Homo sapiens: one gene and its partners. The protein of the gene in region 6 purifies or fractionates together with the protein of the main gene of each other region. This does not show direct contact. Each region holds a gene or a part of one and is shown on either strand. Other genes may lie near its edges. The genes, in order: CLGN, ABHD17B, ITGB4, DSC2, KREMEN2, GXYLT1 and ST14.

Region 1 (3,500 bases), on a different chromosome or scaffold from region 6:
AAGACCCTCAGTAAGGATATTATTTCTCTTATTAAAATAAAATTTAAAAAATCAAATGTTTTAGTTACAAGAGGTTCAAAACAAGAATCCCTCTTCACCTACTCTTTTGATGGTTTTTCGCTAGTGACCCAAGGAACCAAATGTAAGGTAAGAATTTTTCTTTATAGCAACTGAATTTAATGATACATTTTCTAAGATGCATTGTGTTGAAATATTTAGCCCAACCTTTTCTAAACAGTGTTAAGGTTTCGGGAAAAAACTGGAACAGAATTTAATAATGTTAAACTATAAATTCTTTGTACATTCCTCTAAGTAAAAAATAGTTAAATAAACAGTAATATTTAGATTATCATTGTCACTTAGGTCTTGAACTGGCAAGATGACAAAGATATTAAGTAGTCTTCTTCTATGAACAGTAAATAAGCATTAAATCCCATTAGTGATGTTATAATTTAATGAATAAAATGAGGACTTACATATGCATATATAGCTCATAATGAAGTAACATAAAAAGCAAAATATTCTGTCTACATAAACTTATTCAAACACATTTCCTTGGCATTTAGTAGTTACTGCACATTTATTTGCATTTAAAAGAGCCATCTGAATAACCTACAACCAAGACCAAGTATTATTATTCATAGTTATATCACTACTGCTATTGGTCAACACCATACCTTATTAGCATTTGCTATCATTATTTTCCATCTCCAACCATCTGCAGCCCAGTGATCTGCTACTTCCTTTTCCGAACAGATAATAAAATTATCAAAGTAGATATCAGAGGTCATAGACCAAAGCTCTAAACCAAGAGCACTGAAAGAAGTCAGAAGAAATGGATGATCATCTTCGAAATAATCTGGATTAGGAATTTTTCGAGGACTCCAGATTCCCTGGAAGAAAAGTAATTGAAGACATTTTCAAATAAAATAACTTCATTATAAATGCTGCTTAATAAGTAGCTGCTGTTGAATGAAATTCGCAATGCTAACTGGAAAAAAGAGAATTTTAACTGATATTAATTCATTAGTAATATACTGGATATAAAATCTTGTTTCTTTTGCTGTGTACACAATGTTCCCTACGAGTGATACTAACTTTAAATTCTGCAAGAAAAGGAAAAGGGAAAATCCAACATAAACAGAAACGTGAATAAATTTCACAATTTGTCTACTTTGGACAAATTTTTAGATTTAGTAAAGTTATTCATTGCAAAATGTTATTCAAGTTGTCCAAATCAGAAAGATCATTGTATAGCAAAAATGGAGTTACTCCATTTAACATATACCCATGACAGATATCATTAATCAGGTATGGTTGAATCTCGGCACAACTACTCAACCTAAAACTTCCATTAGATCTTAAATGATTAAACTGTCCATTAAATCAAATACATTCAACAATATCATTGCTCACTGACTCACTCCACCATCACATGTATGTATTCTGGGCCAGGCACTATGCCAGATGATGGAGACATACATGGTTCCTGTATTATGGAGTTTAAAGTCAAATAAAAGAGACAGACATCAAACAAAAAAATTTACCAAAAGAAACATTTTGTGTTAAATGCTTTTAATAAAAACTACAGTGAGTAATTAGAATATGAAACTGCATATATATAATGTTAGAACGTATCCATAAATAATTACAAAGATAAAACTAGAGGGTTAAGTGGATAACATAGAAACTTTTAATATAAAAAGCTAGGTACACTCAAAAGATGTCGATTGATATCAGAAAAAAATCAGGGCTGGGTTCGGTGGCTTACTTCTGTAACCTGAGCACTTTGGGAGGCCAAGGTGGGCGGATCACGGTCAGGAGTTCGAGACCAGCCTGACCAACATGTGAAACCCCGTCTCCGCTAAAAATACAAAAGTTAGCCGGGCGTGCTGGGGTGTGCCTGTAATCTCAGCTACGTAGGAGGGTGAATCAGGAGAATCGCCTGAGCCCAGGAGGCAGAGGCTGCAGTGAGCCAAGATCACGCCAGGCCAGGTTTTTTGTTTTTTTGTTTTTTTGTTTTGAGTCTTGCTGTGTCGCCAGGCGGGAGTGCAGTGGCACGATCTCAGCTCACTGCGATCTCCACCTCCAGGGTCCAAGAGATTCCCCTGCCTCAGCCTCCTGAGTAGCTGGGACTACAGGCGTGCGCCACCACATCTGGCTAATTTTTTGTATTTTTAGTGGAGACAGGGTTTCACCATGTTGACCAGGGTGGTCTCCATCTCCTGACCTCGTGATCCGCCCGCCTTGGACTCCCAAAGTGCTGGGATTACAGGCATGAGCCACCGTACCTGGCCAAAAATCAGAATTTTAATAATACTAAATAATAAGTACATTAATTAAGCACAGGCATTAATTACTAAAATGTACAATATGAGTCTATTTGATCAAAATTCACTTCTTATATTTACTTCTAAAATAGAACTTTATTTCAAAGTGAGCATCAACTGATAATTAGGGAAGAATATAGTATGAAGTGATTTATTTCCCCAGAAAATTAAATAATTGATGCTCTACTTTTAAAATATAAATTAGTTGAGGTCTATTTTCTTTGACATCTTAAAATTAAAAATGAAACTTCCAAAAGTTGACATAGGTAATTAGATATTTAAATAGAAAAGATCACAACATTTTTAACTTCACTAAATAATTGGAACAAGCGGTTGTTACCTGATAGTTAGGATTATCGACCAGTGGAGGTCTCCATACTCCTTTGTATTTTGGGTTATCTATCATGGGAGGTTTCCACTCACCACACCCAATCCGACATGCTGGATTAAGAATCTGAGGTGCCTCCCATTCTCCATCCGTGTCTTCATTCCTTAGGATATTAAAACAAAGCAAATACAGTAACCTCAAGTCTCAGATCAGTCATATAAACTAGTAACAAAAATGCATGTAAGAAACATTTGAAATCGACATTTGAAGATGAAGAGTGCTTACCAGTCATCAGGTTTTTCAGCATTAGGATCAGGGATAAATTTTGGTTCATCATCAAGCCAGCCAGCAGGTTTAACAACACTTGAATCTTCTATTTGGGCAGGTTCACTTTCATCCCTGTAAATACAACGTTTTATATTACTAATTATTCAGAAAGTTTAAAAATGCATGTTACAACACTAAGAAGGTACCATAAAATTATTTCCCTCCCTTTTGTTTGTGCCTGTTATTTGTCCTCATCTACTACCCACCTAAATCTTTTGCTAACTTGCCAATTTTTGGTACATATTCCCTGTTGTGCTCTATGCATACATGCACACACGTATACATTCTTTTTTTTAATACGAATGATAGCATTCTATACATAATGTATTAGACCTTGCTTTTGTTACTTAAAAACTCAGTCATTCATCAACAAATATATATTGCATGCTTACTATGTGTCAAGACTGTTCGAGGAGCTCCATTATTATTATTTTTTTCTTGAGGTGGAGTCTTGTTCTTGTTTCCCAGGCTGGAGTGCAATAGTGCGACCTCAGCTCACTGCAACCTCTGCCTTC
Region 2 (3,500 bases), on a different chromosome or scaffold from region 6:
GACTAAATGGTTGAGAATATCTGGGGGAAAAAATGCCCTTTTCACTCAATACAGAATCAAATATATCCTATAATGCTCAGTATAAATGTGTTTATAAGAAGCAGCAGAAAAAAGCACAGGAAGAGAGGAACAAGGGTAGGTATAACATAAAAGACTTCAAAAGGTGAGGGAAGGGCAGAAAAACATCTTGGATATTAGGAAATGCTTTAATTGCTTCCTACCTTTATTTCTTTTTAGGCTTCAAAATACAGCCTGAATAAGTTAATGGCTTACTCTGGTTGGAACAAGAAATAGGACAGAAATAACAACTAAGTGTCATCTGCTAACTTTAACTGAGGGCTTCCTGAAGTGTTGTGCTGAGAATGATTCTAAGGCATACACAGGGCTTAGCCAGCAAAAGATGTGATAAATTAGTGATGTTTACTATAGACTCTGGCTACAAATTTACTATCCTGGTCAGGAGGATAAAGTGTCTGTTGAAGAAGATGAAAGGGAAGGAACTCAAAGGATCTGTTCCAGAGGAGGAAATGACCTGCAGAAAGATGATGAGGTACAAGGTATAATATCAGTGCTGTCTGTTTAATATCTGTCTATGGTTATTTGTCAACCCTGATTACCTCATATACCATTGACTGCTGAGCCACAATAGCCTTTTAAAAAGCTTAATAAGTAAATGGTACGTATCTAGACTATAGTCCTATAATTTATCTCTTAGCCAGAAACACTTTTGTTGTTGTTTTTCGAGACGAAGTCTCACTCTATCGCCCAGGCTGGAGTGCAGTGGTGCGATCTTGGCTCACTGCAACCTCCGCCTCCCACATTCAAGTGATTCTCCTGCCTCAGCCTCCCCAGTAGCTGGGATTACAGGCACACACCACCATGCCCAGCTAATTTTTGTATTTTTAGTAGAGATGGGGTTTCATGATGTTGGCCAGGCTAGTCTCGAACTCCTGACCTCAAATGATCTGCCTGCCTTGGCCTCCCAAACTGCTGGGATTACAGGCATGAGCCACCGCACCCAGCAGAAAAACTTTCATACACTATAATAAACTACTTTTGAAATAAAGCTGGCTGGTTGAACATATATAATGCTGTGAAGAAGTTTCTGGGGATGAACACCAAAGGAGAGAAGCAGAAAGGAGAAAAACTGCAGTGCCAGGGTCTAGTTTAATGACAACTTCACTTCCTTAATGCTGACAGAATGACTCCCCTCTTCCACTGCCCAAAAGCCAGATAACTGGGGCTTATTTAATGACAACAACTTGCAAATGATCACTTTCCTAATAAGAGGCCTGGTATAGGGCAGCAACACAGACCTACTTTCAAAAGTTAATTGAATACTTTTTAAGTCTGAAAAATTTCACAAAAACTATAAACAAAACAAATAAATCTAGGTTTTAGTATAGTGTGAGCAAGTTACTGAAGAAAAACATTTTATTCTGTAAAAAAAAAAAAAAATCACTGAAATAGCTTGTTAAACTTAGATAATTTCAAGTCCAACTTGTTCTTATAAAACTCATGCCAGACGCAGTGGATTGCTTGAGCAGTTAACAGTTGAAAAACACATCAGTGAGCTAAAAGATCAGGTTGAGTAATTTGCAAATATGGAATTTTTTTGTGGGAATTAAGAGACAGAAAACAACAAAATTTAATAGATAGAAATAGAAGTAGAAATATCACTATCCATACTATAGAAGTTCCAGGAGAAAATAAAGATAAGACTATTTAAGAATTTCTCAGAATTAAAGGGGGAAAAAAAGTCAGATTGAAACACCTCAAAGTGTACCAAAAAACAACAAACTACTTAAAAATGAACAAGATCAGATGAACATATGACTTTCTAATATAAACACTGGAAGCCAAAAGACAATGGAGAGATAATTTTAAGCTAAAGATGAAATCAAACTTTTAACCTAGAATTGTACATAGAACAAAAATACAGTTTTAATATAAGGATAAAGGTATCTGGGCTGGGTGTGGTGGCTCACTCCTGTAATCCCAGCACTTTGGGAGGCCAAGATGGGAGGACCACTTAAGCAACATAGGAAAACATTGTCTCTATCAAAAAAAACAAAGAGAGAGAGAGATCTGCAGGCCCACAAAAACTCGTAAGACTTAACCAAATCAAGTCTCTCTTTGAAAAACTCCAGCAAGGAGGGAAGGAGATAAATCCAAGGGAAGGCCAGGCACAGTGGCTCACACCTATAATCCCAACACTTTGGGAGGCCGAGGTAGGAGGATTGCTTGAGCCCAGGAATTGAAAACCAGCCTGAGCACCATGGCAAAACTCCATCTCTATAAAAAATACAAAAATTAGCTGGGCATGGTAGTGTGTGCCTGTAATCTCAGCCACTGGCGTGGCTGGAGTGGGAGGACTGCTGGAGCATGGGAGGTCAAGGCTACAGCGAGCTGTGATAGAGCCACTACACTCCAGCCTGGGCTACAGAGTGAGAGCCTGTCTCAACAATAACAACAAAACAAACAAAAACCCCCCAAATCCCAAGGGACTTCTATGAGATATCTGAGATATGAGAAATAAAGGAGAATAGTTAATACAATGTTTTTTGTACAAGTGAGCAATGGGAGCAAGGAGGGTGAAGACAACAAAGTATATCCCTAAAAATCCAGAACAAAAACTTTGGTGAATATGAATACGAAGAGGATTGACAAAAGAGAGACTACTTAAGAGGTAAAAATGTGCTGGGGTACCTGACTTGTTGAGGATGCTACTGATACTGATAAGCTTAAGACATAGAAGAAAAGCCTGAATATAAGCATGACTCTTAATAAGTCAGATATAATCATCAGAAAAATGATAGTGCAGGGCACATCTAAAGGAGTTACAATTATCCATTACAAAAGTCTAGCTTTAAATATTAGTGTCCAACTTAAGAAGAGAGTAAACAAAAAGAAAACAAGAAAAAGAAAATTAAGAGCAGATATCAACAAAACAAAGAACAAAAAGCAATGGAGAACCAACAGCTGATTTCAGAAAAGGCTTCCACTACTACTAATAGCAAATAGCATTAACTGAACACTTACAAAGTGTCAGGCACTATTCTAAACACTTTTCACATATTAACTAATCCTTTCAACAATCCTCTGCTTTAGGGACTATTATTACACCCATTTTGCAATTGAGAAAACAGAGGCATAGAATAGTTACATAAGTTGCCTAATGTCACAAATCTGATCAATGGAACTGATACATGACAGAATGACTCTGTAACCCAAACTCATAACTACTGTTTTGTGGAAAGGGTACTCAGACAAGACTGATCACAAGAAAGAGATAAGCAAAATAAACGAAATAATGTACTAAAGGAAAAAGGACTTTGAGCTACAGACATAGTTTCTAGAAATGAAAGAATATCATGTGTCAATAAATAACCTAGACAAAACTCACGCACTTCTTGAGTAATATAAAAGGACAAAATTGGCACAAAGGCTAGAATATGCAAATAACCATCAGAACTTCAAAGGGAAATCAAAGACCACCT
Region 3 (3,500 bases), on a different chromosome or scaffold from region 6:
GGCCACGCTCTTGACCGCTGTTTTAAACGATTCCACTCGGTGTGGGGCGCTGTGCCTATCCCCCACCCCGCTGCCCCCACAGAGGCGTACCACTTCCCCCCGCCGGATGTGAAAGGACCCAGTCCTCGTCTTCTGGAACATCTTGGAGGTGACCTCTGTCCGAAGGCCTCGGGGGCTGTCTAGGGCCCGGATGTCCAGGTTGGAGCGGATCCGCTAAAGGAGGAAGGAGGTTGATCAGTGCTCTGTGGGGGGCCTCTGTGCTCCACCCCAACCTCCAAGTGTGGCTGGCATCATGCGGGGTATCACAGAGCCTGCAGGAGCCAGGGCCAGGCCCAGGTGGCCCCTCGGGGCCTCAGGGATAGCTAGAGACCCTTCCTCACTGGTCTGTCCCAGACCCATTTCTCCACCGTGATCCAAGACACCTCTTGCCCACCCTGCCCACTTCCTGCCCTGCCCCAGAAGGGCTCAGACTCTGGAGCCTGAGCTGCCCTCACATTGAAGGCCTCCTCCAGCAGCTCCACGATGTTGGACGAGTCCTCCTGCAGCACCCCCAGTGAGGAGACAGGGAAATAGGTGTGAAGCTTCTGCGGGAGAGAAGGCCAGGTCTCAGGCTAAGCATCTCCATGAATCTGAACAGCTCTAGGATTCTTCCCACTTTGAGGATGGGGAAACTGAGGCCTGGAACCTACTGTGGTGTCGCAGAGCCTGCCCTCTTAGCCCCCACCTGCTTGGGAGTTGGGGTGGAAGATGGGCACATGACCTCCCCTTCCCACTAGGGCCCACATTTTGGGGGGTCTAAAGGCTTTGGGAAGGGAGGAAGGAAAGGGAGGAAAAGAGGGAGGGAGGAAGGGAGGAAGGGAGGGAGGGAGGGAGGGAGGGAGGGAGAGGTGTCTGAGAAGCTCCATGGACCCCCTACCTTGACCACCTCCCACCCGTGGGACCTGGGCCCCGCACCTCGTAGTAGCTATAGGAGTAGTTGGTGACAGCAAAGATGGGGATGATGTTGTGCTTGGCGAGCAGGCGCACCAGGGTGGGCACCGACGGGTAGTCCTGTGTCCTGTACTGGGTGTAGGTGCCCGTGGTGTCCAGGTGGCACCGTTCATCGTTGCGGCTCATGATGCCAGCCAGCACGTTGGCGCCATCAGCCTCATAGTGGAAGGCTGACTCGGTGGAGAAGACCAGCAGGTGGGTGCTGTCCGGGCGCCAGCCAATGTCCCTCTGGGGAAGGCAAGGCGGGGCGTGCCCACTGAGCAGGCTGCCTGCTGACACGCATCACGGCGTCGTGTAGGACGGGGAACGCGGGTCCCAACATGGGGCTGGGCTTAAGCCACTGGATTCACAGCAAGTGCCCTCATGAAAGATGCATCTGACGGCACATGACTGAGTGACAACGCTGAGAAACAGGAGCTGGAGATGCGGCCCCCGCAAGGCGCTGGGGCCACAGGCGTGCATCACACCCAGCTAATTTTTGTGTTTTCTGTAGAGACAGGGTCTTGCCATGTTTCCCAGGCTGGTCTCAAATCCTGAATTCAAGCAATCCCCCCGCCTCGGCCTCCCAAAGTGCTGGGATTACAGGTGTGAGCCACCACGCCTTGGCTAGCTCTTTGTTTTCTAACCTAGTAATATGGGTATGTCATTTTCAGAATGAACAAATGGATGTACATATCAAAGGAAATGGCTTATTTGGATGCCCAGAACAGGTGGAGTCTGGGCAGCTGGTGGGTTCAGGGTACTAAAGATTCCAGAACGCTAAAGCCCAGGTCTGCCTTGGTAGCTGATACGAAACCAGGCTGTGACTGCTCAGGCCAGGGGACCGTGGCTCCAGGCACATCTGAACTCAGATTGTAACTGAGACCTACTCACAGAGTCTGAGCTTGTCTCAGGGTGAAGGGGTTGCAGGCTCCCAGGCTTTCCCTCAGGGCCTGTGAGCCTGGCACCAGAGCAGGCCAGGGGGCAGCTCAGGCCCTTGCCCAGAAGTGCTCACCCCTGGCCTAGGCTGGCAGCACCCTTCCCAGTGCCCACCGTGCACACAGCTGTCTGCAGGATGGCATCGAAGCCGCCCTCAGGAGCATCCAGGTTGCCTGAGATCCGCTCTCCCTGCAGTTTATTCCGGAACTCATCCACATCTTCTGTCAGGCTGATGACGTTCTTGAAGGAGAAGGGGGGGTCACTGTTGGGCCAGGGCTCCTTCAGCCTGGGCAGAGGTGGGAGGGAGAGAGAGTGTCACAGGGGGAAGACGCCGCAGACCCCAGTGCCCCTGGCTCGTTTCAACTAGAAGGAGAATTTTTTTTTTTTTTTTTGAGACCAAGTCTCGCTTTATCACCCAGGCTGGTGTGCGGTATGCACGATCTTGGCTCACTGCAACCTCTGCCTCCTGGGTTCAAGTGATTCTCCTGCCTCAGCCTCCCAAGTAGCTGGAATTACAGGCGCCCACCACCACACCTGGCTAATTTTTTTTTTTTTTTTTTTTTTGTTGAGACAGAGTCTCATTCTGTCGCCCAGGCTGGAGTGCAGTGGCGCAATCCTGGCTCATTGCAAGCTCCGCCTCCCGGGTTCACGCCATTCTCCTGCCTCAGCCTCCCGAGTAGCTGGGACTACCGGTGCCCACCATCACGCCTGGCTAATCTTTTGTATTTTTAGTAGAGACGGGGTTTCACCGTGTTAGCCAGGATGGTCTCGATCTCCTGACCTCGTGATCCACCCGCCTTGGCCTCCCAAAGTGCTAGGATTACAGGCGTGAACCACCGCGCCCAGCCAATTTTTGTATTTTTTAGTAGAGATGGGGTTTTGCCATGTTGCCCAGGCTGGTCTTGAACTTCTGACCTCAGGTGATCTGCCCGCCCTGGTCTCCCAAAGTGCTGGGATTACAGGCATGAGCCACCGTGCCCAGCCGTAGAAGGATAATTTTAAGTTGTGGGTGAAAGAGGAGTGGGGGTCACATGGCCTGGACCCTTGCCCACCTGCGGGACCCACACAGTCACTTACTTCTCAGGCCTCATGTCCGTCTGCGGGACGCTGACTTTGTCCACAAACTTGCCAAATCCAATAGTGTAGTCGCTGGTGAGCTGGCTCAGGACCCGAGCTGGATGTCAAAAGGACAGAGAGGGGATAGCTGAGCCCTGATGCCTGGCATAAACACGGGCCCCCCACCAAGGGCTGGCTCAGAAGGGAGGAAGAGGGAGGTTAACGCTTTGCATGCTGGACAAAGGTTCATGCTCACAACATTGTCTGTTCCTATTTATGGATGAGGGAAATGGGACTGGGGGTCTGGAGTTATGCGTACAGCAAGGGCAGGGTGGCTGGGAATGCAGCCCAGCTCTGAGGAGCAGAAGCTTCCCCACAGCCTCGTGGCAGGGGGTGCCCTCCTTGTCAGGGCCAGATGGCTCCACTGCCCGCCTGCCCTGGGCCTTCTCAGAAGTCCCCAGTGGTGAGTAGGGTCTGACCGAGATTCTTCCCTTGAGAATGGAAGGGAAGGTTTTTGGGGGCTCAAATGTCCAGTG
Region 4 (3,500 bases), on a different chromosome or scaffold from region 6:
CACAGAAAAACTGGGCTAGGAAAAGTCTGGCACTGTCCCAGGGGCATCAAAGCTGTGCTAGTTTTTGAACCATTTAAAGATATTGGTTACAAAATAGATATTGTATTATATGGACTTTTTAAAAAAAAAAATACCTAAACAAAAGATTATCAAAAACTAATATATTCTTTCCATTGTATATGAAGAACAGAGCATTTGCATTTACTTATATACCTATTTTATTCTACATTTATCAGAATTCCTTTCTTTCCATTAAATTCTAGCATGCTATTCTATGATATTATAAACTACAAATAATGTTCTAATTTATTCTTACCTTAACTACACAAAGAACTCCTTCATTGGTTTTGGCATCTGTTACAATTTTAAAATTGCCATTTTCATTGCCCTTTAAAATGGTATAATTAGCTCTCCAGTTAGCAGTATTCACTAAGTCCTTATCCTCAACAGTAACTCGTAAGATTTCCACATCAACTGTATTTTCTTCCACTGATGTCACATACTAAAATAATAAAAGCAAACAAAAAATTTCGTTAGTAACTCTCACAAAAATTGAACACGATGTGAAGTAAATCCTACTCTTCTAATTTCCAAAGTACTATGTTTACATGATTTGAAACCCTAGCACTATACAACTTTTAATGTCACTGGGGCACTTCATTTGAAATCATGAGGGGTGGATGGGGATGTGCATTTTTTTCTTTTCCTTCACTGCAACCTCTGCCTTCCACGTTCAGGCGATTCTCCTGCCTCAGCTTCCCGAGTAGATGGGATTACAGGTGCCTGTCACCATGCCCGGCTAATTTTTGTATTTTCTGTAGAGACGGGATTTCACCATGTTGGCCAGGCTGTTCTCAAACTCCTGACCTCAGGTGATCCGCCCGCCTCGGCCTCCCAAAGTGCTGAGATTACAGGCGTGAGCCACTGCGCCAGGCCAGAGATGTGCATATTAAACAATTAAAACTGGTCTATACATTTTTCTTTAATTAATATCATACACTTACAGAAGTACGAGTAAATGTTGGCAAGTGGTCATTTACATCATCAATGTTAATGATACAAGTTGAAGTTGTCTGTAGACCAAAATACTGACCATCCATGTCTTGTACTTTTATTTTCAACTGGTACTTGTCAATTAACTGAAAACAAAAAAAGAATTTAATTATTGGGGGAAAGCACCAACATTATAATTGAAATCTTACTTTACACTCCATAATTTTTTTGCACTAAGAATTTAAGAAGTGCATTATTACATTTCACAGCATTCGTGTATTAGAAGAATTTTCTCTCACTAGTAATTTTTCTTTTCTTTTCTTTCTTTTTCTTTTCTGAGACGAAGTCTCGCTCTGTTGCCCAGGCTGGAGTGCAGTGGTGTGATCTTGGCTCACTGCAACCTCTGCCTCCCGGGTTCAAGCGAGGCAGGAGAATCACACTAGGAATTTTTAATCAATTTATGAAAATTGAATAGTTTCTCAAATTTATAGTGCTATTAACTTACAGAATATAGATTCAATTGGTTTTGTCTTTATTCAACAGAAAAAGAAGAGCTATTTGCCACAAGTGCATTTAAAATTGCCTGGTAATTAATCAAAACCTTTATCTCCTAGCCAAAGTACATTCTTATGTTCAAAAAAATAGACAGCAATGACTCTTAAAATAGTCTTTTAACAAAACAATAAAATGAAATTTCTTCCTGCAAAAAATATAGATTTTAAGGGTTTATGTTACATTTAAGAGATCATCTAAACTGACATGAAGATAAAGGTCTGGGGCTATGTAGGTTTTTTTCTTTCTGTGGAAAATAGAATCTGGCTCTTAAGGCTTTCAATTTATCAGATATTGTTGAAAACTCATCACTACCTTAAAAAATATTTTTAAACATCTGAAGCATTTAAATATTTTAAAGTGTTTCTCCTTATAACTTTCATTTATCATAAGTGATTGAGATATGGGAGAATTAAAAACAATACAGTAATAATGCTTTCCGGACTGAGCATTAGGAGACTTGGGTTCTATTTCCAACTCCAAAAATAAGAGACACAATCTTGGGCAATTGGAAAATTCACTTTGTCTAGGTTTCTTCTTCTATAAGATGGTGATGCTTACCTTTCCTACCTAATTTATCTCTTTTCATAAGACAAAATAGCATGTTAAAATCTATCCTCATCTTCTACCTAGAATGTTCACCCTTCTCTTACAAAGATTCTTCCCTTAATTCCATCATCTCTGAAACTTTCTTTTCCTTAGGCATTATCTAAAATAAAACTAAAGTTTCTCTTGATCTTCCTGCTTTTAACACACATAATTTTCCAGATTTACTCCTCCCTCATAACCAATCACATGTGTAGACTTGAAAAATAATGGCCTTATTTCAACTGAAAAATTTTAAAACATCATGCTACTGTACTTTCAAGAAGGAATACATATTTTGTTTGTAGTGAACTAAAATTTATTGGAAATAATTAACTGGCTAATGAAACAAGGAAATGAAGTTTGATACCCTAAGTATTAACTTATGCTATCTTCAGATGGAAGAGAAATTCTGATGTTTAAAGGGACTAAAAGGTTGTAGGCAACTGAAGAAAACCGGAATCCTGAGGTCAAAAAGTTACTAGAGAGCACCACTGGATAAACACCTTCACTGGACAAGTGTTTTCAACTGATTATTTCAGAAGAATCTATTCAAAGAAAAGCACTTCTGTGATTGTTTGATTTAGGAGCTGAACAAGCTGTTGAGTTTTTGCTTTTTTTTTTTTTCCATAGAATGCTATTTTCACATAGACATCTATGGCTATGCAGACTATAGTTTTATGAAAGTATTTTGTAAAACATAAAGTTAATCTGTCACTTCAGGGAAAACAACTATTTGTTGCCAATGATAAATTGGAGATTTCAAACAAAAATGAGAAGCTTGGAAAACCTTTATCAACCAATGTGATATCAATGGAAGTAAAGAGGTGATCTTTTTGATATTATTTAATGCAATGTGTCAATATTTGGAAGCTCTGCATTACTTGGTGAACCAATATTTTCCAAATGACCAATGCACAATATAGAATGATGTACTGGTAAAATGGTCACTCAAAGTGTAAGATAGAGCAATGGATTTTAACGTAATAAAGTACAAAAGGTCATTGTTGAGGATTCAGAGTCCACATTACCAAAAACATTTAGGAAACAAGCTACTCCTTATCAAGTATTCATGTAGTATCAAGGAATAATATCCACAGTGATCTGTAATTATCATCAAAATACTACTCTCTTTTCTAATTTTATATCATGTCAGATTGCCTTTATATATGCTTCAGCTAAAACTACATATTGTAACAGACTAAATGCAGAAGGAGATATGAGAATCCACCTGTCTTAAGCAAAATACTAAAAACATTTGGAAAAATGCATAACAATGTCATTCTTCCCACTAAATTGTACTGTTTTGGAAAATGTACTTATTTTGTAAGTACAAAAAGAAGAAAAAGTGTAACAATTTTTACTGTTAT
Region 5 (4,286 bases), on a different chromosome or scaffold from region 6:
GCGGGTCGGCCAGCTCGAAGAGGCGGAAGGTGAGCTCCAGCGCGGCGCCTGGCGGGCCCAGGGCCCAGCTGCAGTTCCGGTCCGGCCCGTACTCGTCCGGGAAGTCCGGGGAGTAGATGACGCCCTGAGGCGCTGTCCAGTTCCCCTGGCAGGAGCCCACCGACACTGCGGGCGGGGCCGGCAGTCAGCATCCTGAGGACCAGGACACGGCGGCTCCCCTGCCCGGCCAGGCCCCACCTCGAGGCCCGCCCAGGCCCCTGGTCCCCGCCCACTCCTCACCTTCATAGACGCCCAGCCGCCCATCGCCGCCACACAGCTGTCCAGGGTGGCCGAAACAGATCTGGTCACAGTCGGTGGCGGGGGCCAGGCGTCCCCGGGCCAGGTCGCTTTCAGAGCCACAGAAGCAGGCGTAACCGGCCTCCACGCCCGCCAGCTGGGAGCACAGACTGGGTGACCCCAGGGCAGGGGCTGGGGTAGGGGTGAAGTGGTGGGGGCCTGGGGTCGGGGTGGGAATCGGGCTGGAGGTTCAGAAACCGGTGTCTGGGTTTGGCAACCGAGTGTTGGGAGTTGAGTGTGGTCTTTAGGTCCAGGTCAGGGGTCACTGGTCTGGGCCCGTGAGCAGTACCTGGTACCCCTTCATGCGGCAGAAGCGTAGGCACACCTGGACCGTGAGCTTCGTGGAGGTGCCGCTGGGGCCGCTGAGGGCTGGGGGTGCCCCTGAGTCCACAAAGCATCCCAGGTAGCCTGGCACTGAGGGGGCAGAGTCAGACTTCCGTGACTCCGAAAACAACCCTCCTCCCAGATGCAGCAGCGTTCCCACCTCTGTCCAGCCGCGCTACTCACTGTGACAGGAGGGGATGTCGCAGTAGCGCCAGTAGATGCCCTCCTCTGTCTCAGCCACGTAGCACCACGGCTGCACGTCACCGTCTGGGTTACTGCGGGTGGGAGGGAGGTGGTGGGGCTCCCACCACCCCAAGAATAGCAAACCCAGGCCCGGCCCCGCAGCCTATGCTCAAAGTGGCCTTCAAGGCTCTGTGCCTGTGAGCGGCTGTGCTGCCTGCTGTACACCCACAAATTCCAGTTTTGTCTACGCAGAACTCTGCCTGATGAAGGAACTGGACGTCGACTTCCGAGTGGACAGCGGGAAGTCATTAAAGGGGACTTGAGAGCTGTTTTTAGGCTTCAGCTGTTGCTAGACTTGACTCCATATATGAGGACTTTGAGGCCATCTGTATTCTTCACCCCCACCCGGCATGGGCCTCAGCCACTTCCGTCCCTCAAACCCCACTTTTTTTTTTTTTTTTTGAGACGAGTCTCGCTCTGTCACCCAGGCTAGAGTGCATTGGCGCGATCTCTGCTCACTGCAAGCTCCGCCTCCCGGGTTCAAGCGATTCTCCTGCCTCAGCCTCCTGAGTAGCTGGGATTACAGGCGCCCGCCACCATGCCCCGCTAATTTTTTGTATTTTTAGTAGAAATGGGGTTTCACCATGGTAGCCAGGCTGGTCTCGAACTCCTGACCTCAGATGATCCGCCTGCCTTGGCCTCCCAAAGTGCTGGGATTACAGGCTGAGCCACCGCGCCTGGCCTCCAACCCCACTTAAAAGCAGAAGTGAGCTCCTGAGCTTTGCGGCTCTCCTCCCGCTGGGTCCATCCTGCCTCAGACCGTAGCTGTGGCTCTGAACCCCAAAATAAGTTGTATGACAAGAGCCCCACTCTGACAAGGCCCCGCCCATTCGGCCCCCGCTCTGACCAGGCCCCGCCCATACGGGTCCTTTGAGTGCCCAGGTCCGTTTCTCTCCTGGCCCTGAACTGGAGCTCTGCAGAAATTGTTCACCTGAGGAGGATCCCTTTTGCGCCAGGGTTCCGCGCGCCCCGCCCCGCCCCGCCCCGCCCCTCATTCTGGCCCCGCCCCCAGGTTCTCCAGGAGGCTGGGCTGCCAGTCCACGGCAGACCTCCACCCCGCCCGCACGGAGGCCCCGCTTCGGGCCATCCCTGCAATGGTGAGCCCAGCCTCGCCCCCAGCGCAGGCCCCGCCCCTCACCGGCAGAAGTTGTGCGCGCCCAGCCCCCAGCGGCCGTGGGGGTCGCTGGCGCTGCTGTAGCTGTGTTGCTGCGTCTGGTCCCAGAAGAGGCACGGGCGGCCCGCCCCGCGCGGGCCAGTGCGGTTCTGGTGGCCGCGGTAGTCAGCCCCATTCACCTGGAAGCATTCGGACAGGCCTGCACGGCAAAGGCAGGGCCTGGGGAGGTCCGGACCCACGCCGGGCATCCTCGCGCCCCTACGCCACCTCCCGCCTGGGTCCCCAGCCAGCGACCCCGCACCCGCCCCTGCAGGAGCCCTCGGGCTGCTCAGCTGCTCCGGCCACCTGCTCTGTCCCCCTCCCTAGCCTTGGGGGCCTGGCCCTGGGGGCGGAGGCCGAGGAAGGGGTGGTGAACACGGCCCGACAGCCGTGCGGGGACTTACCTGGACTGTGCAGGCTCCCAGCCGAGGCCCCACGCGGCTGCAGCAGCGGGAGGAAGAGGAGAAAGAGGAAGCCCTGCAGGGCTTGTGTCCCCATCGCTCTCAACCAAGGATAGGTCACCCTCGCCCGGACACGGCCCGGGCTGCCCCCGGGGTCGCTTCGGGGTCTCCCAGGAGACCTAGGGGGCGTTGTCCTCTGACAGTCTCCCCTCGTCCGACTCTGAGCCGCGCTTTCCGTCTGGGGTGGGTAAATCTCTCCTGGGGGTCTTTGCCTCCCAGGGCCTCTGCCCCTAGAGGCGTCTCTCTGTCCCTGTCCCTACCCGGGTCTCTCCGGGGGGAATCTGGCCGGGGGCGTTCTCAGTCTCTGTCTCAGCGAGCTCTGGGCGGTGCCTCAGCCTCTACGCCCGCCCCCTCCCACTGAGCCTAGCTCTCGGCGTCTCCCTCGCCCAGGTCTCCAACGGGCTGACTCCTGCCCGCCTCGCATCCCTCCGTGGGTCCCTCCCCCTGGGTCTCTCCCTCCCCCCATGGGAGGCCGGGAAGCCCCGCCCAGCACTGGAGCGGAGGCAGCAGGTCCAGACGCCTCCCACGCCCGTTCCCCCGACCCCGGGCGTCCAGCGCTTCCCGGCCCCCTCTCCCTCAGGTCGGTGCCGGTTCAAGTGGGAAGGTGTGGAGGGGGACAGGCGGGGCAAGCGGACGGAAGGCCCTTAAAATGGGAGATACAGAACCCCCTCACGTGGTCGCACGCGCCCCAGGACACCCGGAATGTCCGAGTTACAAGCGCCCTCCTCCCAGTGCACGCACGCGCTCGCACTCTCTCCCATTCATTGCCAGGCGCTCACGCGCACACTTTCTTCGGATCCGCACGCCCCTCCCGCCCCTGGTCCAGATGCCGCTGGCCTGACGGAGGAAGCTCCACTCCCTGCCCCCGCGCCCACGAGACAGGCGGGAGTCGTGGACGCTCAGTCCGGGACAGGCAGGGGCAGCTGGTGTCTGGGGAGAAAGGCAGCTGCGCCCCAGGTCCCAGTCTGTCCCCTCCTCCTCCCCCTGCCCCGCCCTTCCCTGGGACCCCCAGCCCAGACTCTCCCGAGCCTTCACACTGCAGTGGAATTCCCCCAGCCGTGCCCCCCACCTGGCGGGGGAGGGGGAGGGGAGCAGGCCCAGGCAGGCGTGGGGGGAAATTCCCCGCCCCCTCCCCCTGGGCCCGACTCCTCCGAGTCCTCTGATCTCCCAGCGCCACCCGCCCGCTGCCCCCAGGGCTTGGGGGGAGGCCAGCGCAGGTGCGTGGGAGGGCGGAGGCGGGGGCCGGGGGAAGGAACTGGTGGGGGCCGGGCGCCCAGAGCGGCCCCGCCCCGCCCAGACCTCTTTGCCCCTCAGTCCAGCCTGCCCAGCCCGCACCAGGCCCTCGCCAAGCTGTCGAGCCCAGGCCGACCAGTCCCCGCCCTGCAGCCCCCACACCGTCTCTGCCCCGGTGTCGATGGAGAAGAAAGATGGGGTTCAGGGAGGTTCTGTCAGGCCCAGGCACCCACTGCGGTGCTGGGACCCGCGAGGATCTTCCAGCTGGCGCCTCACGCGAGTGTGCTCTGGAGGAGGGGCGTGGAGCCGAGGTGGGGGCATTTGAAGGAGATGGACTTGCTGAGACTCTAGGCCAGGGTCCTGGTCGCCTCCTCCGGGAGCCCTCTCAGAGGCCAGGCTGGCCCGGCTCACTGAGCCCTGAGCTGGGGCCTCCAGCACCCACGGGCTCCCTGGAACCCAACTGCGCTTCCCGACGAGGGAGCATCCGGGACCACCTGTCTGCCCGGTTTCTCTTGGCGGGGGCTCAGTGAAGTCCT
Region 6 (3,500 bases):
TTAATAGATATCCTTATCTTCATTTTAACTGGAAAGCTCCTACTGTTTAGCCATTAAGCACAATGCTGCCTTTTGAAATGAGATAAAAATATAATACTAATAATCTATCAATTTATATTTTATGCTTTTTTAAAATAAAAAAGATACTGAATTTAGTGCTTTTTCAGATACTGAATGTAATGCTTTTTTCTTAATGCTCAAAACTTGTTATTTGAAAACCCAAAGTTAAATACTTAAGGGAGCAAGAAACTGAGTCCAATGAGAACTTGGTGTTGGAAGGGGTAGAAGTGAATACCGGGCCTTTTAGATCTATGTGACTCGGGGACTATCCAGAGTAAAAACCAGTATTCTTCATAGTGCAGTTCACAGCAGTTCACATAGTGTGCTACTATGTAAATTTTTTCTATGTCCTCAATAAGATTAAGTAATTAAGTATAGAAATTAAGAGTAAGATTTAGAAACTTTTACAGCAAGTTAACAGTTTTATGTGTACTTAATATATTTCTCTAGTAATCTCTCTTTTACAAAAGTATTGGCTCATAACATACTGAAAATTTTTTAAAAATTAATCTTTTGCCATAGTTTGAGAAACATTGTTATAAGTCATTTTATAATTTATATTAAATTCAGTGACGATATAAACAATCTATCCTTTAAAAAAGAGAAGGCCAGAATTCATGAAAAAAAAAAAATCCACATACTTAAATTGATGTGCTACAACTGCATTATTATCCTTGTGTGAAATTTCTTAGAACACAGTAAATAGTAATTATAATCAGAATTTTTTTTAATCTGGAAAATGACTAAAACAAGTTTTACTTAAGGAAACAATTTGAAAAGATAACTCTTAGAAATAAGTCATTGAGTATGTTAAGGAAATATTCTTAGGATCTGAAAAGAAAAATATCAATTACACAAGGACAAAAACCAGGAACACTTTCAACAGACAGAACTGGTGGAGCCCTTGTACAACACCATGTTAAAGTCTTCATGTGATTCTATCTATTCAAATATACACAGAAATACAGATACATATTTAAATTATAAAAACCAATATAAATCAAATATATATATTTGAATATATATCTTACAAGAAATGTACCTATTCAAAGAGCATCAATGAAATACAAAATTAAGAGTTCACTGCAGTCTTAGGAAAAAAATAAAAAGGGAAAAAAACCTTAAAGAAAAAAGTCCCATTAGAAAACTATTTGGAAAAGAAGCGATAACGCTAGTATTATTTGCTAATGATATAACCTAGATTATCCAAGACAACCAATGAAAAGCTATGAGAAATGAGTTTAATAAAGAGGTATTACATATAAAAGGAGTTCAAGTCAATAAGAAAGAGAAAACCAAGAAGTGGGCAAAGGATATGGGCAAGCAGCCATTCACAAAAGAAGAAACAGAAATGGCTACAAATTATAAGAAAAGATTTTTAACCACACCGGTAGTATAGTCAAGAAAATATGAATTTTAAAATATATTTTCAGCCATACAACTACATATCCATACTAGGTACACACAAAAAGAGAAAATAAAATCATCCATTCTCCACATCATACACACATTAAAAATGTGATTATGTGTAATGACATAGAAGTCAGTCAACTATATATTTACTAAATGAAAAAAGCTGAAGATGTATAAAAGAATCCTATATCTAAATGCTAATGCACACCTATGCTTGTTTCAAAATACTTTTTTTTTTTTTTGAGACAGAGTCTCACTCTGTCGCCCAGGCTGGAGTGCAGTGGCGCAATCTTGGCTCACTGCAACCTCCACCTTCTGGGTTCAAGTGATTCTCATGCCTCAGGCTCCCGAGTAGCTGGAATTACAGGCACCTGCCACCATGCCTGGCTAATTTTTGTATTTTTAGTAGAGATGGGGTTTCACCATATTAGCCAGGCTGGTCTAGGACTCCTGACCTCAAGTGATCCACCTGCCTCGGCCTCCCAAAGTGCTGGGATTACAGGCATGAGCCACTGCACCCAGCCTCAAAATGCACTTTTTAAAAGGTCCAAAGAACACATAGCCAAGTTTATAGTGTCACTCTGGGTGGAGGCATGAAAGTGTGAAGAGATATGTCAAGGGGAGACCTGTCTTTTCATTCTACATAAAATTACTTTTTTGAATCTTTATAAGCACAATTTAGTTTCATAACATTTAAAACAGAAAACTGTAGTTCTAATTTTACAAAATTTAGCAAACCTATGACCAAATACATGTATGTTACATCAAGATCAATTAGTTTCATTTTTTGAATTAAGCATGCTTTGAAAATGAATGGACTGTCATTATCAGCCTGTCCTATACATACATATAAAATTAAAGCGCATTCACATTATGCTCCAACAAAAAAGTGGGAACTCATCAATTCCCAAAGATTAGTTACTTCACTTTAAAAAGTTCTACCCCTTTGGCAAGATGTTCGTTGTTGTTATTCTGCTCTCATAAGCTATGTACTAACACAAGAAAACTCTTTATCACATACATCTTACAAATATGTAAAAGCATTGTATCTACTTCATACAAAGTGTTCCCTTTTCCAGTATTTTTCAATTCATTAATGGCCTAGTTTCTAAAACCTTCATCTGACTCTCCTTTGCTAGCAATTATCTATCAAGTTGCTACTTTATGTCAGACACTGTGCTAAATATTCTTAATATAAAGCTGTATAAAAGACACATCCTGCCCTCAGTAGGTGGAGCAAACAGACAAAAAAATACTCTACAAAATAATATATAGAAAGCTGAAAAGGGCAGAGTAAACAAAGAAAAAATTCCCACCATGTCTAATTTATACTCTTTGGTTTTTCTCTAATAAACAGGAAAAGGCTAAGAAATACAGTAATACATTTTTTAGAAGGAGAGAAAATAAATACCCTAATAGGGATTCAACACGGCAAATACGATACTGCAAAATAGAACGTAATCATTTAACCAATGTTATTCATTATCTAGCAAATATACAATTATGAGATTAAAAATTATGATTTTTAAAAAGTTGTATTTAATATTTAATTTAATTTAATAATTATTTCATTAAATTAAATTATTTGAATTTAAATTTTTTAATTTTTTTTTTCTTTTGAGACAGAGTCTCACTCACATTGTCACTCTGTAGCTCAGGCTGGAGTGCAGTGGCCCAATATCAGCTCACTGCAACCTCTGCCTCCCTGGTTCAAGCAATTCTGTCTCAGCCTCCCAAGTAGCTGGGAATACAGGCATGCACCACCATGCACAGCTCATTTTTTCTATTTTTAGTAGAGATGGGGTTTCACTGTGTTGGTCAGACTGGTCTCACACTCCTGGCCTCAAGTGATCCACCCACCTCGGTCTCCCAAAGTCTTGGAATTACAGGCGTGAGCCACCACACCTGGACCTATTTTAACTTTTTAATATACATAACTATAATACACCAGGTTCGAAATGAACAGCCACAAGTAGTAAGAACCAGGTGACAGCAAGGCAAATAAATAAACTATGACCTTTGTCCTA
Region 7 (4,245 bases), on a different chromosome or scaffold from region 6:
AACACTAAAAAACCCCATCGGTGTCTTCGACCCAATATGCGGAAGGAGTATGAAGGAGAAGAGCTTCCAGGGGATGAAAAGCTTTATGAAAGCTGCCAAGATCAGAACGCCTGGCTGGAGAGAGGGGCTCCAAACAGGAATGCTTGGAGGCACGGTGTTAAGGGAGGACAGGGCAGAGTGTGAAGCTGGGCTAAGGAGGTTGGATTTGATCCGGGAGACACGGAAAGTCATAAAGGAGCTGTGGTTTCAGATTTACCTGACTGCTTTGTGTAGGAGAGATCAGAGGGTGGCAGCCCAGAGGCAGGAGATCTTTCTTAACCAGGCAAAGGGCTCTGAGGACTCGAATAGCGGTCTTCTAATGCGCAGGAATGGAAGGGCTATGCTTGTCAGCAGAGTCTTGATCAGATTTGGAACTAATTGGATATGAGATGTAAGCAGGGTGGAGAATCAAAGATGATTCCAGGATTTGAGCCTGGGAGAATGCTGCCATTAGAATTAGAGAAAACAGTGGAAAATGGGCAAGTCAGGGAAGGAAGATGGGGCTTGTTGATCTCAAAGCAGGGATTTTTATTTTGTTCACTCCTGTTTCCCTGTACCCAGGACAGTGCTTAGCGCCTAGTGTGTGCTTGGTAATGTTCATTGGCTACAGAATACAGTAGAACATAAATGGAGACGTCCCCAGGCGACCGCTAAGGCAGAACTGGCACTCCTTGGTGGTGTCTGTGCTGGGAGGGAGGTCTTCCTGTCTGAAGTCGTAAGATGAGACGTGCTGCCAAGAGAAAAAGCTTAGAGAAGAAAGGGATGAAACTGAAGGGAGAACTTTGGGAATCATGACATTTAGGACTAGAAAGGAGGACCGGAATCCAGGGAAAGGGGGCATTTGAGGAAGCATCAGATGCTGCAAGTGGGCGAGGGGCGTTGGGATGGCTCAGAGGGCATCTGGTGGCACAGCTCATGTCACTGGGCCTCCCCAGGGTAGCCGGGCGCAGGCCAGCAAGCGCCTCCCGCCTGGAGAACAGGAGGCTGCGTAGCCGACGGGGAGCCTGGGCCAGGGGCGGTTCTGGTTTCTGTTTGGTTTTGGGGGGTTCATAAATGCGATTTAGTCCTGTAGCAAAGTGAGCAAGGTGAAGGGGAGAGACCGGAGGCGCATGAGGGAGGAGGGAAAAGATGGTTGGCATCAAGGAGGTGGATAAAGGGCTGCCCTCCCGGGGCAGGGCCCCTGGAGGGCCGGAGGGGTGGTGAACGCCGTCGTGGTGATGGTGAGGGCCTTAGCGACCACCACCCGAGTGAGGCCCCCTCACCTTCAGGCCCAGAGCCGAGGGGAGGAGCCTCCCCCAGGGCCGGCGGGGGCGGGCAGGTGAGCCGGGCAGGTGCGCAGGCGAGCGCGGCGGGCTGGGCGGGCCGAGGCCACACCCTGAAACTACCTGCGTGGGCCGGGCCGGAGTGTGAGAGCGGAGCTGCAGCCGGAGAAAGAGGAAGAGGGAGAGAGAGCGCGCCAGGGCGAGGGCACCGCCGCCGGTCGGGCGCGCTGGGCCTGCCCGGAATCCCGCCGCCTGCGCCCCGCGCCCCGCGCCCTGCGGGCCATGGGAGCCGGCCGCCGGCAGGGACGACGCCTGTGAGACCCGCGAGCGGCCTCGGGGACCATGGGGAGCGATCGGGCCCGCAAGGGCGGAGGGGGCCCGAAGGACTTCGGCGCGGGACTCAAGTACAACTCCCGGCACGAGGTGAGCGCGGGCCGGGGACCCGGGGCGCTGGGAAGCTCCTGCCCGCCCGACCCTGCAGCGCGGCGCTGGGCTCGGCCGGCTCCCCTGGCGTGTCCGTCGGTGGCCGAGCTCTGGGCGCACAGGTGGAATTTCCTGTTCAGCGGGTGCCGGGCCGCGGGCGGGCGGGGCTGGCCGGACCTTTGGTACCGGACCGGCTGCGCCCCGCCAGGGGGAGGCGGGAAGCCCCTGGGCCTTCCTGCGCCCTCGGTCCTTTCTTTCCCTGAGTTGAAAAAAGGGGCTCCGTCTCGGCCCCTCCATGACTCTCGCGCTGTTAGTGAACATCTGGAAGAAACCAGGGGCTTGGAGTGGGGTTATTTGGGAGGAAGTGAAATTTCAGGAGGGTTTGGAGTCTCAGCCATCCTTGGCCTCTGCAGAAAGTTTCTTTCGTCTCTCTCCTTCCCCGTCAAAAGGCGCTTTGGGACCTCGCAGAGGACAACTGGGAGGCCAGGGCTTTGGCTGCCATACGGGCTGGAGCTAAGAACTCCAGAGTTGGGCTTGCCTGGGCTTCTCGAGAGGGGATGGAGCCCTTTGGGAAGGCGGCTGTATGGGAAGGGATGTGGGAACACACATGTCTTGAGCCTTTTGCGAAGTACCGAAACAGGAAGCTCTTCTTTGGCAGAAAGAACAATGAAAGACCTATTGAAAGATCTCAAAAAGATTACATGTTCCTGTATGGAGTTGGGGATGGGTCGCTAGTCACTTCATTGACGGACCCACCTAGGTGGTAGTGCCCGGGCGGGACCAGCAGCCAGGTCTCTACCCTCTCTGTCCAAGGCAGACCCCCAGGTTTCCTGGAAGGCCAGGGCATACCAGGTCAGGGCGGCGCTGAGAGGCAGGGGCTGTGTGGCAGAGAGTTTTGCTCCTCTGCAAATGATGGCCTCCCTGCCCTGCCAACCCTCACTTTCTCCCCTCCTTCCGGGTGCCCCTGGGCTCCATAGTCTCCGCCGTTGCTCCCTAAGTCAGGCCTGATTTTGGTGCTGTCTCAGATCAATTCCTTTTGTCCAAGCAGCATCCCGACCTAGGGAGCTTGCAGAAAATCAGACGCTGGGGCTTTGGAGGCTGCCTGCACCACAGACAGGACCTGGGGCTGGGCTCTGCTATTTTCTCCACTTTTCACCCTCAGCAAGGAGGAAAGCTTCCAGTGGACCTGAAGGCTTGGGCCCTTCCCCTGGCTGTGCCTGTGCCCTGCTGTGAGGCAGATTCACCTTCTCTTCCTTGCTGTAATTGCTATGTTTGTGTCCTTGCTAATTGCCTACTTGGGGTTCTAGACTCCCTGCCTCTTCAGCAGAGAACCTGCTGTTTGGAATTTGTTATTTCAGGGCAGTCCGGTGCCCCCACCCCAAGTTTGTTCTCCCTGACTTCCCTTTCTAGGACTCTCCTGCCCACACGGGGAAAGCAGGGTCTTCCTGGTCGTGTGGTCCAGCCTCCTCTCTGAGCCATCTCACCACCTGACAAGCAGCCAGGCTGGGGCTCACCTTCCACTCACCCCCAGGATCCCACATTCAGCGGACTTGTCTTGTCACCTGCAAGCCCTGGCTTTAGTTTCCCCCATCCCTGCTCATTTCCTCCTCCTCTGCGAAGCTCATTTGCTCTCTGCGCCCTTGGGCTGTTCCTTCCCCCTCTGCCATTTTCATTCTCTTGGCTTGCTCTTTGTCTTTTCTCCTGCCGAGCTTTATTGAACTAACTCAGTACCTAGTCCCATGGGTGAAGGGAAGGCTCTCAGAGACCAGTAAGATGTGGTTGTTTCCTTTAAAGAACATCCAGTCTTGAGAGCGAAACTAAGAGACGAATGCCAAAGTTAGCTGTGAGGCGGAGTGTCCAGAGGAAATTGGCCAAAGCTCATTTCCATGTCTTGCAGATTCCTCCCATCCCTGGCCTCACCAGAAATCCCAGTCCCTGGGATCACCCTGTAGTGTGTGTTTGCAGCTAGGATGTCCATCCCCGGCCGGGAGGTGTGGCTGCTGCCCCTGGGTTTATTATCTGGGTCAGCAGAGCCTGGCCCACAGGGTGCTGTTGTTTCTGGGTTCCTTGTCCCCAGTTGCATCCATCCGTGCACCCTTGTTTGGTGGTATTTGTATCTGGCTGTCCCCTTCCCAAGGCTGGTGGTGTGGCCCCTGCCCCACCCCTGCTGTTCCCATCAAGTGTTCTGCGTGGCCTTCAGAGTCCTGATGCACGTTACTGCATCTGGGGATGGTGTGAGCCCTGCCTGCAAGCAAGCAGGGAAACAGATGCCACTTCTTATGGCCATTAATGAGAGCCAGGGAGCCTGCCTCCCTGAGGGTCTTGATTCCTGTTGAGTATTTGATGGTGAATATGAAGCTGCCTTGACATCCACTGGTTCCTTTTCCGATCACAATTGCCCTAGGTAAGACTCAGCATCCCTTAGGCATCCAGAGACCAAGTTTGGAAAAATCGGATGTTGTGTGGCCAAAATCAGATGTCTAGGGGCCAGGGTGTACACCTCTGGCTATTCAGAGGGTCA

Evidence for each region.
Region 1: the proteins of GXYLT1 (region 6) and CLGN purify together in Homo sapiens (affinity purification with mass spectrometry; one large-scale study listed by BioGRID and IntAct). This does not show direct contact.
Region 2: the proteins of GXYLT1 (region 6) and ABHD17B purify together in Homo sapiens (affinity purification with mass spectrometry; one large-scale study listed by BioGRID and IntAct). This does not show direct contact.
Region 3: the proteins of GXYLT1 (region 6) and ITGB4 purify together in Homo sapiens (affinity purification with mass spectrometry; one large-scale study listed by BioGRID and IntAct). This does not show direct contact.
Region 4: the proteins of GXYLT1 (region 6) and DSC2 purify together in Homo sapiens (affinity purification with mass spectrometry; one large-scale study listed by BioGRID and IntAct). This does not show direct contact.
Region 5: the proteins of GXYLT1 (region 6) and KREMEN2 purify together in Homo sapiens (affinity purification with mass spectrometry; one large-scale study listed by BioGRID and IntAct). This does not show direct contact.
Region 7: the proteins of GXYLT1 (region 6) and ST14 purify together in Homo sapiens (affinity purification with mass spectrometry; one large-scale study listed by BioGRID and IntAct). This does not show direct contact.

The regions. Positions count from the first base shown.
Region 1 is NC_000004.12:140,393,149-140,396,648, forward strand, and holds part of CLGN (calmegin precursor), read right to left. Parts: intron 3,058-3,500; coding exon 2,944-3,057; intron 2,822-2,943; coding exon 2,671-2,821; intron 894-2,670; coding exon 678-893; intron 1-677. UniProt on the Homo sapiens protein: Functions during spermatogenesis as a chaperone for a range of client proteins that are important for sperm adhesion onto the egg zona pellucida and for subsequent penetration of the zona pellucida.
Region 2 is NC_000009.12:71,876,694-71,880,193, forward strand, and holds part of ABHD17B (alpha/beta hydrolase domain-containing protein 17B), read right to left. Parts: intron 1-3,500. UniProt on the Homo sapiens protein: Hydrolyzes fatty acids from S-acylated cysteine residues in proteins. Has depalmitoylating activity towards DLG4/PSD95. Has depalmitoylating activity towards GAP43. Has depalmitoylating activity towards MAP6. Has depalmitoylating activity towards NRAS.
Region 3 is NC_000017.11:75,727,959-75,731,458, reverse strand, and holds part of ITGB4 (integrin beta-4 isoform 1 precursor), read right to left. Parts: intron 3,083-3,500; coding exon 2,986-3,082; intron 2,195-2,985; coding exon 2,023-2,194; intron 1,219-2,022; coding exon 955-1,218; intron 585-954; coding exon 495-584; intron 214-494; coding exon 91-213; intron 1-90. UniProt on the Homo sapiens protein: Integrin alpha-6/beta-4 is a receptor for laminin. Plays a critical structural role in the hemidesmosome of epithelial cells. Is required for the regulation of keratinocyte polarity and motility.
Region 4 is NC_000018.10:31,081,922-31,085,421, forward strand, and holds part of DSC2 (desmocollin-2 isoform Dsc2a preproprotein), read right to left. Parts: intron 1,140-3,500; coding exon 1,005-1,139; intron 503-1,004; coding exon 317-502; intron 1-316. UniProt on the Homo sapiens protein: A component of desmosome cell-cell junctions which are required for positive regulation of cellular adhesion.
Region 5 is NC_000016.10:2,962,789-2,967,074, reverse strand, and holds the start of KREMEN2 (kremen protein 2 isoform d precursor), read right to left. Parts: upstream 2,801-4,286; 5' UTR 2,555-2,800; coding exon 2,461-2,554; intron 2,217-2,460; coding exon 2,042-2,216; intron 936-2,041; coding exon 844-935; intron 751-843; coding exon 626-750; intron 434-625; coding exon 280-433; intron 166-279; coding exon 1-165. UniProt on the Homo sapiens protein: Receptor for Dickkopf proteins. Cooperates with DKK1/2 to inhibit Wnt/beta-catenin signaling by promoting the endocytosis of Wnt receptors LRP5 and LRP6.
Region 6 is NC_000012.12:42,099,875-42,103,374, forward strand, and holds part of GXYLT1 (glucoside xylosyltransferase 1), read right to left. Parts: intron 1-3,500. UniProt on the Homo sapiens protein: Glycosyltransferase which elongates the O-linked glucose attached to EGF-like repeats in the extracellular domain of Notch proteins by catalyzing the addition of xylose.
Region 7 is NC_000011.10:130,158,337-130,162,581, forward strand, and holds the start of ST14 (suppressor of tumorigenicity 14 protein), read left to right. Parts: upstream 1-1,445; 5' UTR 1,446-1,643; coding exon 1,644-1,724; intron 1,725-4,245. UniProt on the Homo sapiens protein: Exhibits trypsin-like activity as defined by cleavage of synthetic substrates with Arg or Lys as the P1 site. Involved in the terminal differentiation of keratinocytes through prostasin (PRSS8) activation and filaggrin (FLG) processing.